Linked DNA regions of Homo sapiens: region 2 is reported to be linked to region 1. The links are microRNA targets in miRTarBase. Many come from high-throughput screens and were not tested one by one. Region 1 holds a microRNA gene; the other region holds the end of a gene's coding sequence.

Region 1 (7,722 bases):
ATGTCTGGAGAGGATGTCTGGAGAGGTATCAGCCTAGAGCCTGAGAGCCAAGGGGATGTCTGGAGAGGTATCCAGGAGGCAGTTGAAATCAGGCCTGGAGATATTCACTTGGGAGTTGGAAGGTTACTGACAGGTGGTTGAAGGCAGTGCACAGCTGAGGCCACCCAGGAAAGGTCCTTGGAAGCCCTAAGCACCAAAGATATGGTGTTCACCTCACCCCCATGAGTCAAAAAGGAGTCTAAATTAAATTATAAAATGTAACACTTACATGCCTTACAAAACTCTTGGACTGGCACGGTGGCTCACACCTGTAATCCCAGCATTTTGGGAGGCCAAGATGGGCAGATTACCTGAGGTCAAGAGTTCGAGACCAGCCTGGCCAACATGGTGAAACCCCGTCTGTACTAAAAATACAAAAAGTTAGCCGAGCATAGTGGCGCATGCCTGTAATTCTAGCTACTCGGGGGGCTGAGGCAGGAGAATTGCTTGAACCTGGGAGGGAGAGGTTGCAGTGAGCCGAGATCACACCACTACACTCCAGCCTGAGCAACAGAGTGAGACTCCATCTCAAAAAACAAAAATAAAAATAAAAACAAAAAACGTTTGCAATCATCACATCCATGGGTTCACAGAAACACATTTTCCTCCTCATCTTCCTTGTTTGATGCTCCTGGTCTGATGGTGCCCTGAGGTGTCTACCTGCTTGCCGGCTAGGTGGCCCAGCTCCAAATCCAGGCAAAAACAAGAGGCTCAGGGGGCACCAACAGGCTGGGACCGAGGGGAACAAGATGCCCACAAAAGAGAGAAGGAACACCCAGGAAGACTGGAGGAAACCCAGGAGAGTGTGGCATCACTGGGGCCAAGGAAGGAGGGGGTTCCAAGAAAGAGGACATGATTAGTCATGTAGAAAACAAGAGGAGGCACGGAGATGAGGACTGAAGAGGGGGCCCGGATATGGCTGTGGGGCTGCCAGGCAGGCTCAGTAAAGCAAAGCTGGTCACCTCTCCACGTATCTCTGCTCAAGGGGGCCAGCCTTTGGTGGGGACACTCGGGTGCCCTTTGCCCTTGAGGATCCTCCGGACCTACAAACAAGGAGGGAGTAAGACCCTGGGGTAGGGTTGAGGCGAGCTGACCTCAGAAGGAGAAAAGGAGACCAAATATTTCAGTGGACTCAAGGCAGGGGGCGCCTCTGGGTGGCAGTCCCTCCTCTGACCACAAGGGGGCAGCATAAAAGCAGGTCCTGCGTGGGCTCAGGCTTCTGTAAGGAGTCGGCTTCCAGATGCTGTTTTCATCTGTGATGCGTCCTTGGGCTCTCTGGGCCTCAGTTTCTTTCTCCGCAAAATGGGGCAGTTGGACATCATATTCTCTTGGACCCTGTTGGGATCCCCTTCATTCTGCATCCCCTTACCGCCTTCCCAGCTCAATGTGACACCCCCCATCTGACCACAATAAGTGTGTTAAGTGAGTAAGGTCAATGGCACAGGTATAGCATGTGGTGAGAACACAGAATGCTAGCCCGAGGAGGCCTACAGGCGTGTGCAAGGTTAGCTGAGTGAGGACAGACCATCCCATGAGCTTGGGTTAAACCTGCCTGCAGCGACCGTCTGTGAAGGTGGCCTCTGCTTCCTCTTACGGGGAGTACTGGGGTGGGGGTGGGGCTGCCTCTGCCTCTTCTGTCTGCCCCCAGGGCAGAGCTCTGGCTCTTTGTGCAGGCTCCTTGTCCTGCCACTGTTTGCCCTCTCTGGGACATGTCAGCACCTGTGCCCTCTTTGGGCCTCAGGGCTCATCGAGACAAGGAGGGAAAGAGCATGAGAGTCTCCTCAGCACTGCTGGTCCTCAGGTCTCTGAGGCAGCCCCACCCTATCCTGGGATGCCTCCCAGTGCTGCCCTGTGGGTCTGCAGTCCTTTGGTGCCAGTTGGTGGGAGGGGCAATGTGAGGGTCACGACAGTTGATTCCTGGCTCTGGGCCGCCATCAGATCTTCAGAGGGGCTGGTGTGCTGGTGGCTGCTGGTGGCCTCAGCTGGGGACAAGGAGTCAGGGTTGGAGCCTCATTCCATGTCTGACAAAGTGTGGCTTTAGTTGATCACTGCTGGTGGGTGGCAGGGAAGCTGAAGCCAGGGCAGGAGCAAGAGGTGGCCTGGGGAGACAGTACCTCTGTGGAGGGCCCCTTCCCCTCAGAAGCTGGGCCAGCCCAGGGCAGCCGAGGACAGTGACACAGGAGAACACCCACGGGCCAGTTGTCCGGTGCCAGCTCCCCGGCTGTGTGATCTTGGGCAAGTGGGCAACCCTCTCTGAGCTATGGTAGGGAGACCTATCCAGAATTCAGGAAAGCATGTTATAGGCCCAGGGCAGTCCTGGTATTGGGGCAAAGAAGGGCAGGCAACCCTGGGTCACCGACTTGTCCTAGGGGTCCAGTCCCCGGGATTTGGCCTCTTGGAGCCCACTGGGTGGGTGTCTAGGGGAAACTGAAGATGGATCTGACTCAGTTGGGTCCTGGTACCAGCATTTTGGCTTGGGAGTGGGAAAGGGTAATAAAGGACTCTACAGTCACAAGAGCTTGGCCGCTGCCTGGACAGGCAGCCTATGCAAGTCCCCTCCTATCTCTGAGCTGCCATTTCTTTATCTTTCTGAGTTCCACCTGGGGCAGGACCTTCAGCTTCCCAAGTCTCACCAGACCATCGCCTCCCGGGTGCCAGGCTGAGTTGGCTCTCAGGCCCTCTCTTTCCCAGGCGGGCCTCGGGTGGTGCCAGGTGCCGCAGGAGCTTCCGGTTGGTGCAGGGAGCTGGCTGGCGTGGGCTGTCTGAGGGCAACTGTCTCGGTGCTTAGCTGAGGCCTCATCGAGTGGCACCTGTGGCCCGGGCCAGCTGGGATGGGAAAGGGTGGTCTGGCCTCCACCTGCTCAGCTCACTTGCCCTCTAGCCACTCTCACTTGAGCCTCAGCCTCCTGTATCTGCTGCTGCTGCTGGAGCCCAAGGGGCTGGGGCCATGGCTGGGTGCCCCAAAGACAGGAGAGAAGGAGGTGCTGGGGCTTTGCGCCCTGGAGGGGACAGCTAGAGACTCATCAGGCAGGAAGTATCTCCTCTTCTTGATTCTGATCCTTCACCCACCTATGTCAGCCTCACACCTGTACCTGTACACCTGTGGGGCAGCCTTCCCCACCTGTGGTTTTCCCCACTTCTGGAGCCCTAGAAGAATATGTAGAGCAGGCTTGGGGTGTGGCCCCATGGAGCACCCCCAAACTGCCTCTGGTCCCCAGGCTCCGGCTTGTGCTGTCCCTTCCCGCTGTCTGGATTTTGGCCTGTCTGTGGGACCTTGAGGAGCCTGGAGCCTGGAGCTGCCAGCTCGTCTGGGCCCTCCAGGCTCCAGGATCTCTGGAGGCCATGGGTGGGGCTGGTGCTGGCCTTGTTGGTGTTGCTCCTGCTGGAGTAGTGGTGCCCTCTGGCATCTGTGCCTTCCACGGCAGGTCACTGGTGCCATTTGCCATGTGCAGTGGGTGCTGGAGTCTAAGCTCGTGGAAAACTTCCAAGGCCTGGGCTATGGTCCTCATGGCCGTGCGGCCTGCCTTGACACACACAGAAGGGACACATGCACTAGTGTGCGTTCAGGGGACACGTGAACACACCCCTCATATTCAGACAGGTGTAAACAGCTCAGCCACACAAGTGCTGAGCTCCAGCAGACTCACGCACGCAGCCACACATATAGACAAGGTACAGGTGTAGCCAGTGTGTGAACATTGATAAGTCTGTCAAGGCAGATATGTGCACAGTCCAGAACACAAGACGGGTAGAAAGGCAGACCTACAAATGTGCACAGATCCCTGCCAACAAACATGCATATCCATACATGCACATATGCATACACAAGCTGTCATGGGCACACTTACAGGGGAACATGCCTTACTCAGAGCACAGAGCATTTCTCCAGCCCTCCCTGCATCCACTGCAAATGGGGACACATGTCCTATCCCTCAGCAGGCAGGGAAGGGCTGGGGGAGGGAACTTCACCTTTTCTTAGACCCATGGCAATGGAAAGTGGGCACCATCTTGGGTGATGTAGCCAAATGTCTCCTGTTCTGGGAGTCTCGGCACACATAGAAGATTCTGGAGAGGAGGGGGAGGTGCAAGGCATGATCCACTTCAAGCAGCCACCAAGCCCAGTGGGAGCTGGGTCTCTGGGCTTAGCAAGACAAGAGCCCAGGGGCCGAGGCTGAGCTGAGGAGCCTCCAAACCTGTAGACAGGGTCATGCAGTACTAGGGGCGAGCCTCATCCCCTGCAGCCCTGGCCTCTGCAGGGACAAGGGAGAGGAGAGGGTACGTCTGCAGGAGGGATTGTGGATTCAGCCTCCCATGTAGGATATGAAGCGACTCAGGCTGGGAGCAATCAGAGATCCCTGGGTTTGTCATGGCGCTGGGGTCTCCTTAGGACATCAGAGCCAGCTGTTACCTGCAGGGAAACCATCCAGATATATTTAGATACACACATACTTAGCATTGCATTACAATTGCTGACAGTATTCAGCACAGTACCATGCTGTACAGGTTTATAGTGTAGGAGCAATAGGCTATGCCATGTGGCCTAGTTGTGCAGTAGGCTACACCATCTAGGTTCATGTAAGTTTGCCCACCAAAATTGCCCGGTGACACATTTCTCAGAATGTATCCCCATCTTTTTTTTTTTTTTTTTTTTGAGATGGAGTCTCACTCTGTCGTCCAGGCTGGAGTGCAGTGGCACGATCTCGGCTCACTGCAACCTCCGCCTCCCGGGTTCAAACAATTCTTCTGCCTCAGCTTCCTGAGCAGCTGGGATTACAATCACGTGCCACCACACCCAGCTAATTTTTGTATTTTTAGTAGAGATGGGGTTTCGCTATGTTGGCCAGGCTCATCTCGAACTACTGACCTCAGGTGATCCGCCCACCTCGGCCTTCCAAAGTGCTGGGATTACAGGCATGAGCCACTGTGCCCGGTCGTATCCCCATCATTAAGTAACGCATGACTGTGTTCATAAGGTTGTGCAACCGGTTCCACTATGGCGCTCCAGAACATTTTTGTGACCCCACAAGAAACCCTGTGGCCATGAGATGTCACTCCCCATTCCGTCAGCCTCTGCAACCACTAATTCACTGTTCGTCTCCATGGATTTTCGTATTCTGGGCATTTGGTAGGAATGGAATTAGACATTATGTGGCCTTCCGTGTCTGGCTTCTTTCACTTAGCATAATGTTTTCAGGGCCCTGTGCCTCTGGTTTATAAGTGAGGACACTGGCCCAGACAGAGGGAGTGACTGTCCAAAGTCACATAGCAGCCAGGAGTCAGGCCCCTACACAGTGTTGGCTTTTTTAGGACCTCAGCCTTGGTCCCTGGGGTTGTGGGCTGTGGACAATGGAAGAGGTCACACTTCATCTAAAGGGGCAGCTATTACTCAGCTCTGCCTGGGACAGAATCCAGGGGCAGCACTGCCTAATACTAAACACTGTAAATAATGATACAAACGGCCAGGCACGGTGGCTCAAGCCTGTAGTTCCAGCTACTTGGGAGGCTGAGGCAGGAGGATCACTTGAGCTCAGGAGGTCAAGGCTGCAGTGAGCCATGATTGTGCCACTGCACTCCAGTCTGGGTGACAGAGAAAGACCCTGTCTCAAAAAAAAAAAAAAAGTTACAAATAACACCAGCTAACATTTTGCATGCTTCTTTTGTGCCTGGTGCTGTTCTAAAGAAGTGCTGTATAGGCACTTTCTTATTTAATCTCCATGACAATCTTGGTGAAAGTGCTGTTATTATCCCCGTTATGCAGACGAAGGAAGCAGAGCACAGAGAGGTTAAGTAACTCAGCCAAGGACACACAGCAAGCTAGTGGCAGAGTTAGGATTGGAACCCAGGTAGTCTGACTCCAGAGCCCCTGCTCTTACCCACCTATACAGATGCATTCCTTCTTCCAGATTTGTAAAGGAAGGCAGTAATACAGATTTTAATGTGAAACCTCATAAGTTTAAATGTTTCCAAGTGTCGACAACTTATGACAATTGTTTTTTGACACCGTACAGGCTGCAGGGCCTAAGCCTGGAAAGTTTCGTTTAATACAAAGGGAGAGGGCCCTCACCTTTGGTTTCTTCCTCAGCATCACTGCCATTCTGTCCAATACCACTTGGTCATCTTCTCCCTGACATTTCTTGCAGAGGCAGAGAGAGCCTGACATTGGGCACCCAGGTCCCGCTGAGGGTCGTGCTATAGCAGACAGCCCCATGGCCTGGTGCTGGCCTTGTGCCTGGCAGTGTGACTCTGGGCCAGTCCCTTCCCCTCCCTCAGTCATTCTTTTCTCCTCTGCAACCTGGGCGGGGAAATTTCTCATGGGATTAAATGTGATAACTGGCACAGACTAGTCATTCAATAGCCATGGTTTTTTTTTTTTTTTTTTTTGAGACAGGGGTCTCACTATGTTGCCCAGGCTGGTCTCGAACTCCTGGCCTCAAGTGGTCCTCCACCCTTGGCCTCCCAAAGCTCTGGGATTACAGGCATCAGCCACTGTGCCTGACTGCCATAACCATTAGCTGACCCAGAAACAACGGGAGATACAACCTGTTGTATCTGCATAAAGGGCCAACATTTGGGTTGCAGAGGTTTGTTGAGACTAATAATACCATTTATTGAGCACTGAGATAATTCCAGATACAGTGCACATTACATGCATTGCCTCATTCAGTCCTGAACTTTTTAAGCCCTGGAGGCCAGCCATTAAGGTTATGGGCCTAAGGTTTGAGCTAGGCGGCTGATATGGTTTGGGTGTGTCCCCACCAAATCTCATCTTGAATTGTAGTTCCCATAATCCCCACATGTTGTGGGAGGGGCCCGGTGGGAGGTAATTTAATCACGGGGGTGGTTACCCTCATGCTGTTCTCATGATAGTGAGTGAGTTCTCACGAGATCTGATGGGAGGGACTTTCCCACCTTGTGCTCAGCACTTCTCCTTCCTGCCATCATGTGAAGAAGGATGTGTTTGCTTCCCCTTCCATCATCGTTGTAAGTTTCCTGAGGCCTCCCCAGCCATGCTGAACTGTGAGTCAATTAAACCTCTTTCCTTTATAAATTACCCGGTCTCGGGCAGTCCTTTATAGCAGCGTGAGAACGGACTAATACAGCAGCCTTCTTAGCTGTCAGACCTTGGAGAATTACTCAGCTTCTGAGTGTCTTTATTTCCTTCCCCAGAATATGGGGAGAATAATACCCACCTTTAGGGCAGCAGCAATGATACAATGAATTTAAACTTAAAACATGTGTAGCACTTAGAACAATTTCTCACATTCAGTAAACACTGCAAGTTAGCTTTTGTCCTTATCACAATTAATTCCCATTTTACTGATGGAGAAACTGAGGTCAAAGAAAAATAAGCGACTTGTCCAAGGCAGTGGTTCTCAACAAGGGTGATTGTACTCCTGGGGGGCCATTTGTCAATGTCTGGAGACATTGTGGTTGTCACATCTCAGGGGTGCTGCAGGGATGCTGCTGAATACCCTCCCGTGCACGGGACACCCCTGCAGCACAGATGTTTCTAACCCAGAATGTCCTGGTGTTGACGTTGAGAAGCCCTGATCTAAGGTAACGCAACCAAAAAGTGACATAATCAGGGTTTGAACCCAAGCTAGGGGCTCCAACCTTGCACTCTACCGCCCTTGTCATCTCCCTCCAGGGTGAGTCCTGGGCAAGGCCAGCACTGTCTGTCTG
Region 2 (7,361 bases), not on the chromosome of region 1:
CACAGAGGCCCCATCCTTCCCTTTCTCTCCCTAAGGCTGCTCCAGCAGGGAGTTTAGCTCCATGGACACCTTTGAAGACTGTGAAGGCGCAGAAGACATGGAAAAGGAGAGCAGTGCTCTGAGTGTAATTACTTCCCTTTTGTTTCTTTCATCTTCTTCCCTCCTTCCTATTCATCAGCTCCTCCTGCCTCCTGTCCCTAGCCTCCATCCCTCTCCCCCTCCTCAGGATTCTCACCCATAAGGACCTGGTTAAGCCAGGGAGCCGAGGTCACCAGACCCTCAAACTGGCTCTGACCCTCCTAGTCCAGCATGTCCCCACGTGGCTGTCTCCTTGGCGGTGCGCTGGTGTCCGGTCATAACTGGGGCTCCCGCTGAGAGCCCCGTGGCCCAGGTGGGAGGGCTGGGGTGGGCCTCAGCCTGCCAGCGGGAGTCACCACCTTGCCCGGTCTGGCCACAGCCTCCAGCAATAACTCTGAGGGTGCACCCGTCCCCTCCCTTCCAGCTCGCGGGCCTTTTCCAGTCGGACGACAGTCACGAAACCTGTTCCTCCAAATCTGCTTTCCTGGAGAGGGGAGAAAGCAGCCAGGGAGAAAAAGAAGAACGCGATGAGGAGGAAACGTGAGTGTGAGCGAGGAAAGACTAAGCGCCTCTTTGGGCCACGGCGTCTCTGACTTTCTTCTCGGAATTGCAGGGCGACCCGCAGCACCGAGGAGGAGCGCGCTGGGGCGTCCACGGGCCGGCTGGCTCCTGCGGGGGCGACGGCTGGTTTCCAGGCGAGGGCGCTGCGCCCGAGGACCTCCGCCCAGGAGAGCTGACCTCCCTGCGGACGCCCCCGCTCCTCGGCTCCAGAGCGCCCGCATTCCCGGGAGAGGCGGTGTGGGGGCCCGGGCCCTGCCCAGCTACGCAGAAAGCAGCCGGAGCCTCGGCGGCGGCAGAAAGGGGACAACCAGGGCCTCCTCCGAGGAGCCCGAGGGGTGTCCTGGGTGCGCGCCTAGCTCCGCACGGGGGACCTCGGAGCTGCTCTAAGGCGCCTGCAGAGGCGAGCAGAGCCCGCAGCCCACGCCTTCTCGACCGCGCACTTCGATATTCGGAGCCGGGCAATTCTTTGCTGCGTGGGCTTCTCTGTGCTCCCACGGTAGGATGTTTAGTAGCACCCCTGGCCTCTACCCACTAGGTGCCAGGAATGCGCCACCCCATCCTCCACCCCGCCCCCAAATCGTGACAATCAAAAATGCCTGCAGACACGCCCGCATTTCTCCAGGGCGGGGTGGGAATCGGTTGAGAGCCGCTTAGCCCGAGCCTTGGAGGAGCCGGAGCCGCTCCAACCCGGCGGGGGCCGCAGACTGGGAGCTCCCGGTCCGCCTCCCAGCATCCCTGCGAGCGTTCATGGGGTGTTCGTGTTAGTGCCAAGATTGCTTCGTTGTAGAGAGAGTTCGTTCCAAGTTACTTTCTGAGGTATTTTATGTATCGATTTATTAGTTTTTAAATGAGTTTTGTTAGTTTCAGTTGTATTTTATTTTTAGTTTTATTAGTTGATTTTCATTTCTTTGTAGCTTTCTGGTTATTTAATTTTATAGTTTCAGTTACTGGTTTATAGTTACTTTATTTTCAAAGTTATTTAGTTGTTCATTTTCAGTTATTTATATGTAGTTGTTTTGTTTTAGGAGTTACAGATGTTCAAATTAATTTGCTTGGAATTTATTTATTTATTTATTTATTTATTTTTCGAGACGGAGTCTCGCTCTGTCGCCCAGGCTGGAGTGCAGTGGTGTGATCTCGGCTCACTGCAAACCGCCTCCCGGGTTCACGCCATTCTCCTGCCTCAGCCTCCTGAGTAGCTGGGACTACAGGCGCCCGCCACCACGCCCGGCTAATTTTTTATTTGGATTTTTAGTAGAGACGGGGTTTCCCCGTGTTAGCCAGGATGGTCTCGATCTCCTGACCTCGTGATCCCCCTGCCTCGGCCTCCCAAAGTGCTGGGATTACAGGCGTGAGCCACCGCGCCCAGCCGGAATTTATTTTTAATTATCTTTACAATTATTATCTGAGTTATTTACCTTCATAGTTATTTCACTTTATCTTATTGGAGTTTTTGAGTTATTTATTTTTACAGTAACTTATTTGACTATTAAACACTCACTGGAAGTTCATGAACTACTGTCAAGTTATTTATTTTCAGAGTGAAATGTTTTAATGAAGGGTTTCCCCTAGTTATCTGGTTTTCGAGTTGCTTATGTTCACAGGTATTTATTTTCAGTTATTTTATATTTGAGTTGTTTATTTTTATGTTCTTTTTTTCAAGTTACTTGGTTTTTAGTTATTTCATTTTCAGCATTACTTCATATTTGAACATTATATTTTCTGAATTTTTAAAGAGTTTTTGAGGTATTTAGTTTTTGAGCTATTTTCAGAGTTATTTATTCTCAGTTATTTCTTTTCAGCTTTGTATTTGCCATTCAAATTTTTTTTCTGTTCTTTATTTAATTGTCAGATTTTTTTTTCTTTTTTTTTTTTTTTGAGATGGAGTTTTGCTCTTGTCACCCAGGCTGGAGTGAAGTGCCGCAATCTTGGCTCACTGCAACCTCCGCCTCCCGGGTTCAAGCAATTCTCCTACCTCAGCCTCCCAAGTAGTTGAGATTACAGGCACCTGCCACCATGCCCGGCTAATTTGTTGTTGTTGTTGTTGAGACGGAGTCTCTCTCTGTCACCCAGGCTGGAGTGCAGTGGTGCAATCTCGGCTCACTGCAAGCTCCACCTCCCGGGTTCACGCTATTCTCCTGTCTCAGCCTCCTGAATAGCTGGGACTACAGGCATCTGCCACCACGCCTGGCTAATTTTGTTTTGTATTTTTTTTTTTTTTTAAGTAAAGATGAGGTTTCACCATGTTAGCCAGGATGGTCTGGATCTCCTGACCGGGTTTCGCCATGTTTGCCAGGCTGGTCTCCAACTCCTGACCTCAGGTGATCCATTCGCGTTGGCCTCCCAAAGTGCTGGGATTACAGGTGTGAGCCACCACACCCGGCCCTCAGAATTATTTAGAGTTAGAATTCTTAGTCTACTAGTCAAGTTTCAATCAAGAGACACTGTATCAGTTATTTCAAGAGAGAATTTAATATAAATAATTGTTATCCAGCTAGTAGAGATTTAAAAAAAAGTAGTGATAATGAGATATCATGAAGATTTTGACTGCAAGCTCCCAGCCCAAGGACTCATACAACAAAGAAAAGAGGTTGAAAATATCAAAACTCAGAAATATGAAGGTGGCCCTAGGGCTGGGGGTTAGTCCTCTGAGGAGGAGGCACTATTAATTGTACACGTGGCCCAAGGGCTCAGAGCTCAAGGTCCAGGAGCTGGACGCAGAATTCTGGAGAGGGGACATGGCCAGCCCGTGCTGCTGTCTCTGAATGGGCATCAGCAGGCTGGTTATAGGAGTGCTAGGAAAATGGCAAGCTGGAACCAACTCCCGCTACTGGAACCAGCTGTCACTCTCAGGGTGGAGACAGGATGCTGACAGTGGGGGTGGGGTGGGGTGCACACAGGAAGGAGCCCATGGTGACCCTGCACCCCAGAGCTGGGAAGGGTGGGCTGGAAGCTTAATTACCAGCACACTCAGCTTTAGAGTTACATAGAGTTATGTTAGGATTCCGTTAGTTTTGGAATTGTCAGGGGTGATTTGATTTCACATTTTCATGGGATATGGGATTGGGATGAGTCTTCAGTCTCCTGGTTTGTTTCTGGAATAGAGTGGGCCACACCTCCCAGGAGTCTCCCCCAGGGAACTCAAGACAATCACTTTAGAATTCAAGAAAACAAAAATAATGTGTCTCACTTCGTTCATAAAGAAGGCCTTTGACAACGTGGCCAAAAAGGGGCAGAGCCTAAGGGACAGACTCTTAGAAAGATGCCCTTGGAACAGGGTCCCGCAGAGTGTTCCTCTCAAATTCTTTAGAACTTTACACTGTTTTGTGGGGCCACCCTCTCCCACGCCCTTTCCTAACAACAGTGTCTTTCTTGATAGAGTATGTTTCAAATTTGTAGACTGTTTGCACAATAAAATAAAGTTCCTCCCAAATCAAGAATCTGTAATCTTAGGTTCTTCTACCTGCATTATTCTTCAGCCCACATTGTTCCATTTGACCATCAGAATGTTTACATATGTATATATGTCTGGATGGATGGAAGGATGGATGGATGGATGGATGGATACACTTATTTTATTCAATATCTATTTCCTGAGCATTCCCCTGCCCTGAGGATGGTTCTGGCACCAGGTAGAGACCAGGGAGGTATGAAGATGAGTGAGGCTCTCATTCCAGTGGGGGAGACAGATGTGGAAAAATAATCACAACACAATGTGGCAAATTCTCTGGGAGCATAAAACACCATCACTGACTCTTCCTGATACCGTCAGGAAGGGGTGACATTAGAACTGGGTCTTACTGGCAAGTGTTCTTCTCCTGGTGGAGAAGGAGAAGGGCATCCTGGCAGAGGGAATAGCATGAGCTCAGGTACAGGGGCACAGAGGAGCTGTGCATGGCAGGTAGGACGAGTTGATGGAGGCTGCTGGGTCACAGGGTTCAGAAAGGCACTAAGCTTAAGAGCTGGCCCTGGTGCTTGACAGATCCTGCTTCATTTGGTCCTGCAGCAAGTCTGCAAGATAGTAGGGAGCAACCTCAGGAGTCCCATGCTTCTCCTGACCTTACTTTTCCAAACACAGTTTACATTTCTGGATATCTTAAGCTCCTTCTTGATTTTATCCATCTCCCACTTTTCACGTGTCCATCGGAGGTGAGTTGCCCCCTCTCCTTCACCTTTTGATTCCTGCTGCTTACACATCTGTAGGGATGGAGGAGGGTTGAGACCAGAAAGCTGTGAAGTGCAGACTTCCTCTGACAAGGGAGGTGGAGGAGAGCAGGGCAGAGACCTGCTTGTGGGAATGGCATGCAGAAGTTCTGCAGACCAGCACAGTGGGGAATGGGCTCCGGACATCACCAGCTGTGACTGCCTCCAGCTGCATTCAGCAACCATGGAAAGGTCGTGGGGATGCCTTTCCAAAAGTGGGAGGCTGCTTTAGATCCAACCCAGGCTTATGAATGCAACAGATTGGGATTTTTTAAAGCACGTAGAGCCCTTTGCAGCATTAACAGCAATAAACATGCCTCCCAAGTCAAAAGAAAATATAGTCCTAAGACTATACTTTCAGGGATCATTTCTATAGTTCGTCACTAGAGAAGTTTCTCTGAACGTGTAGAGCACTGATGCAGCCAAAAAACACATGAAAAAATGCTCATCATCACTGGCCATCAGAGAAATGCAAATCAAAACCACAGTGAGATACCATCTCACACCAGTTAGAATGGCAATCATTAAAAAGTCAGGAAACAACAGGTGCTGGAGAGGATGTGGAGAAATAGGAACACTTTTACACTGTTGGTGGGACTGTAAACTAGTTCAACCATTGTGGAAGTCAGTGTGGCGATTCCTCAGGGATCTAGAACTAGAAATACCATTTGACCCAGCCATCCCATTACTGGGTATATACCCAAAGGACTATAAATCATGCTGCTATAAAGACACATGCACACGTATGTTTATTGTGGCACTATTCACAATAGCAAAGACTTGGAACCAACCCAAATGTCCAACAATGATAGACTGGATTAAGAAAATGTGGCACATATACACCATGGAATACTATGCAGCCATAAAAAATGGTGAGTTCATGTCCTTTGTAGGGACATGGATGAAATTGGAAATCATCATTCTCAGTAAACTATTGCAAGGACAAAAAACAAAACACCACATATTCTCACTCATAGGTGGGAATTGAACAATGAGAACACATGGACACAGGAAGGGGAACATCCCATTCTGGGGACTGTTGTGGGGTGGGGGAAGGGGGGAGGGATAGCATTAGGAGATATACCTAATGCTAAATGACGAGTTAATGGGTGCAGCACACCAGCATGGCACATGTATACATATGTAACTAACCTGCACATTGTGCACATGTACCCTAAAACTTAAAGTATAATAATAATAAATTAAAAAAAAAGAAAATATAGTCCTACACAATCTGTTACAATGGTGGTGTATTTTTACACTTTTTATAATACACATCTATGCATTCAGTCTTGACGTGTGTGTGTGTGTGTGTGTGTGTGTGTGTGTTTCTCAGTCAACTTCTCTGCTTACAGTGTCTATCACAATATATCCATTTCCCTATGAGAATCCATTTCTCTGTGAGAACATGTAAGAACTTCAGATGGTCTCTCATCTTAGCTGAACAGAAGAGTCTGTTGGGTTCTGACCACTTGCCTCAGGAAACACATCACTTGTATCCTCTCAAACATTTGACTGTTGAATAGCCAGCCACTCACTATGGAAACACCCCCCAAAGCATTCTCAATCCTTTGGATCTCGGCCCTTTTCTGGATCTATGAGGATGTCCATACTTAATAATTCTAGCAGAATGCAAATTGGCCAAACCTCACAAGCCTCATAGGAAGACCCTGTTTGCAAATGTCTTGCCACAGGTGGGTGACCAGGGGAGTCATTCCAATACCAGTCATTGCTGGAGGTTCCTGGGGTATTGTCCTCCAGTGATCCAGGATGGTCCAATATGACCTTTCACTCCAGCCTCCTTGTCAAAGCCCCAAGCTGCTGCTCTGCTTGCTGGTGTCGTCTGGGAAAAAGCTACCCTTTGGGGCTCAGAGACTCAGACTCCCCACTGAGCCCATGGTGGGCTGCAGGGTGGGACAGGAATCATGGGATAATTCTCATAAAATTGTGCCAGGTACACCGTCTGTTCCCAGTGGACACGACATTCCCTATTCTACACCTGGACACACTGCTCATTCAGGAAATAGTTGTGCATTTTTAGACTTCTTAAAAACAGGGGAAAAAAGAGTGGCTTTTCTGTGAGTGACATTTGTGTCACCTTGTTTAAGTATAAATGGAAAAGAATCCAAAACCACCAGATAAAATCCCTCAGACTTAGAAGTTGTTCAGATCCTCCGTGGCTATATGATGTTGCCTGTTGTCCACCAGAGGAACTTAGATTTCAAAATACTGCTGACAATTGGGAATGCTGTGACCTCAGATTAAAGTGCCCTGGCTGAAGCATTAGAACTAAAAGCAGACCCAGATCTGTAAAATCTGATGGGAGTCTGAGTTCATGTTAAACATCAGCCATGCATTATGAAATATTAGAAAAGTTAGAGATCCTCTAAACCAGCCTTCCCAGAGTATACTTTGCAGAATATGCAGAAGAGTGTAAGAGCTTTTTTTTTTTTTGAATGAAGTCTCGCTCTGTTGCCAGGCTGGAGTGCAGTGGCATGATCTTGGCTCACTGCAACCTC

The links. The annotated mature microRNA hsa-miR-4478 reads GAGGCUGAGCUGAGGAG and lies in region 1 at 4,207-4,223, shown strand. An mRNA with a match to its seed (bases 2 to 7 or 8) in the 3' UTR can be bound and repressed. Matches are read on the target gene's strand: a 7mer-m8 pairs with bases 2 to 8, a 7mer-A1 pairs with bases 2 to 7 and ends in A, and an 8mer does both.
Region 2: miRTarBase lists MCF2L2 as a target of hsa-miR-4478. Seed matches in the 3' UTR shown: 7mer-m8 at 1,823-1,829.

What each region holds. Positions count from the first base shown.
Region 1 is chr9:122,116,648-122,124,369 of GRCh38, reverse strand. MIR4478 (microRNA 4478) reads left to right here and starts at 4,203; the gene lies at 4,203-4,288.
Region 2 is chr3:183,172,834-183,180,194 of GRCh38, reverse strand. It overlaps MCF2L2 (MCF.2 cell line derived transforming sequence-like 2), which reads left to right. Exons shown (of 30, transcript NM_015078.4): 28 at 36-124; 29 at 503-618; 30 at 692-2,154. The coding sequence ends at 815. It also overlaps the pseudogene SNORD3P4. Among named protein-coding and RNA genes, the nearest start is that of LAMP3, 14 kb to the right of the region's middle. RefSeq lists a silencer at 845-934.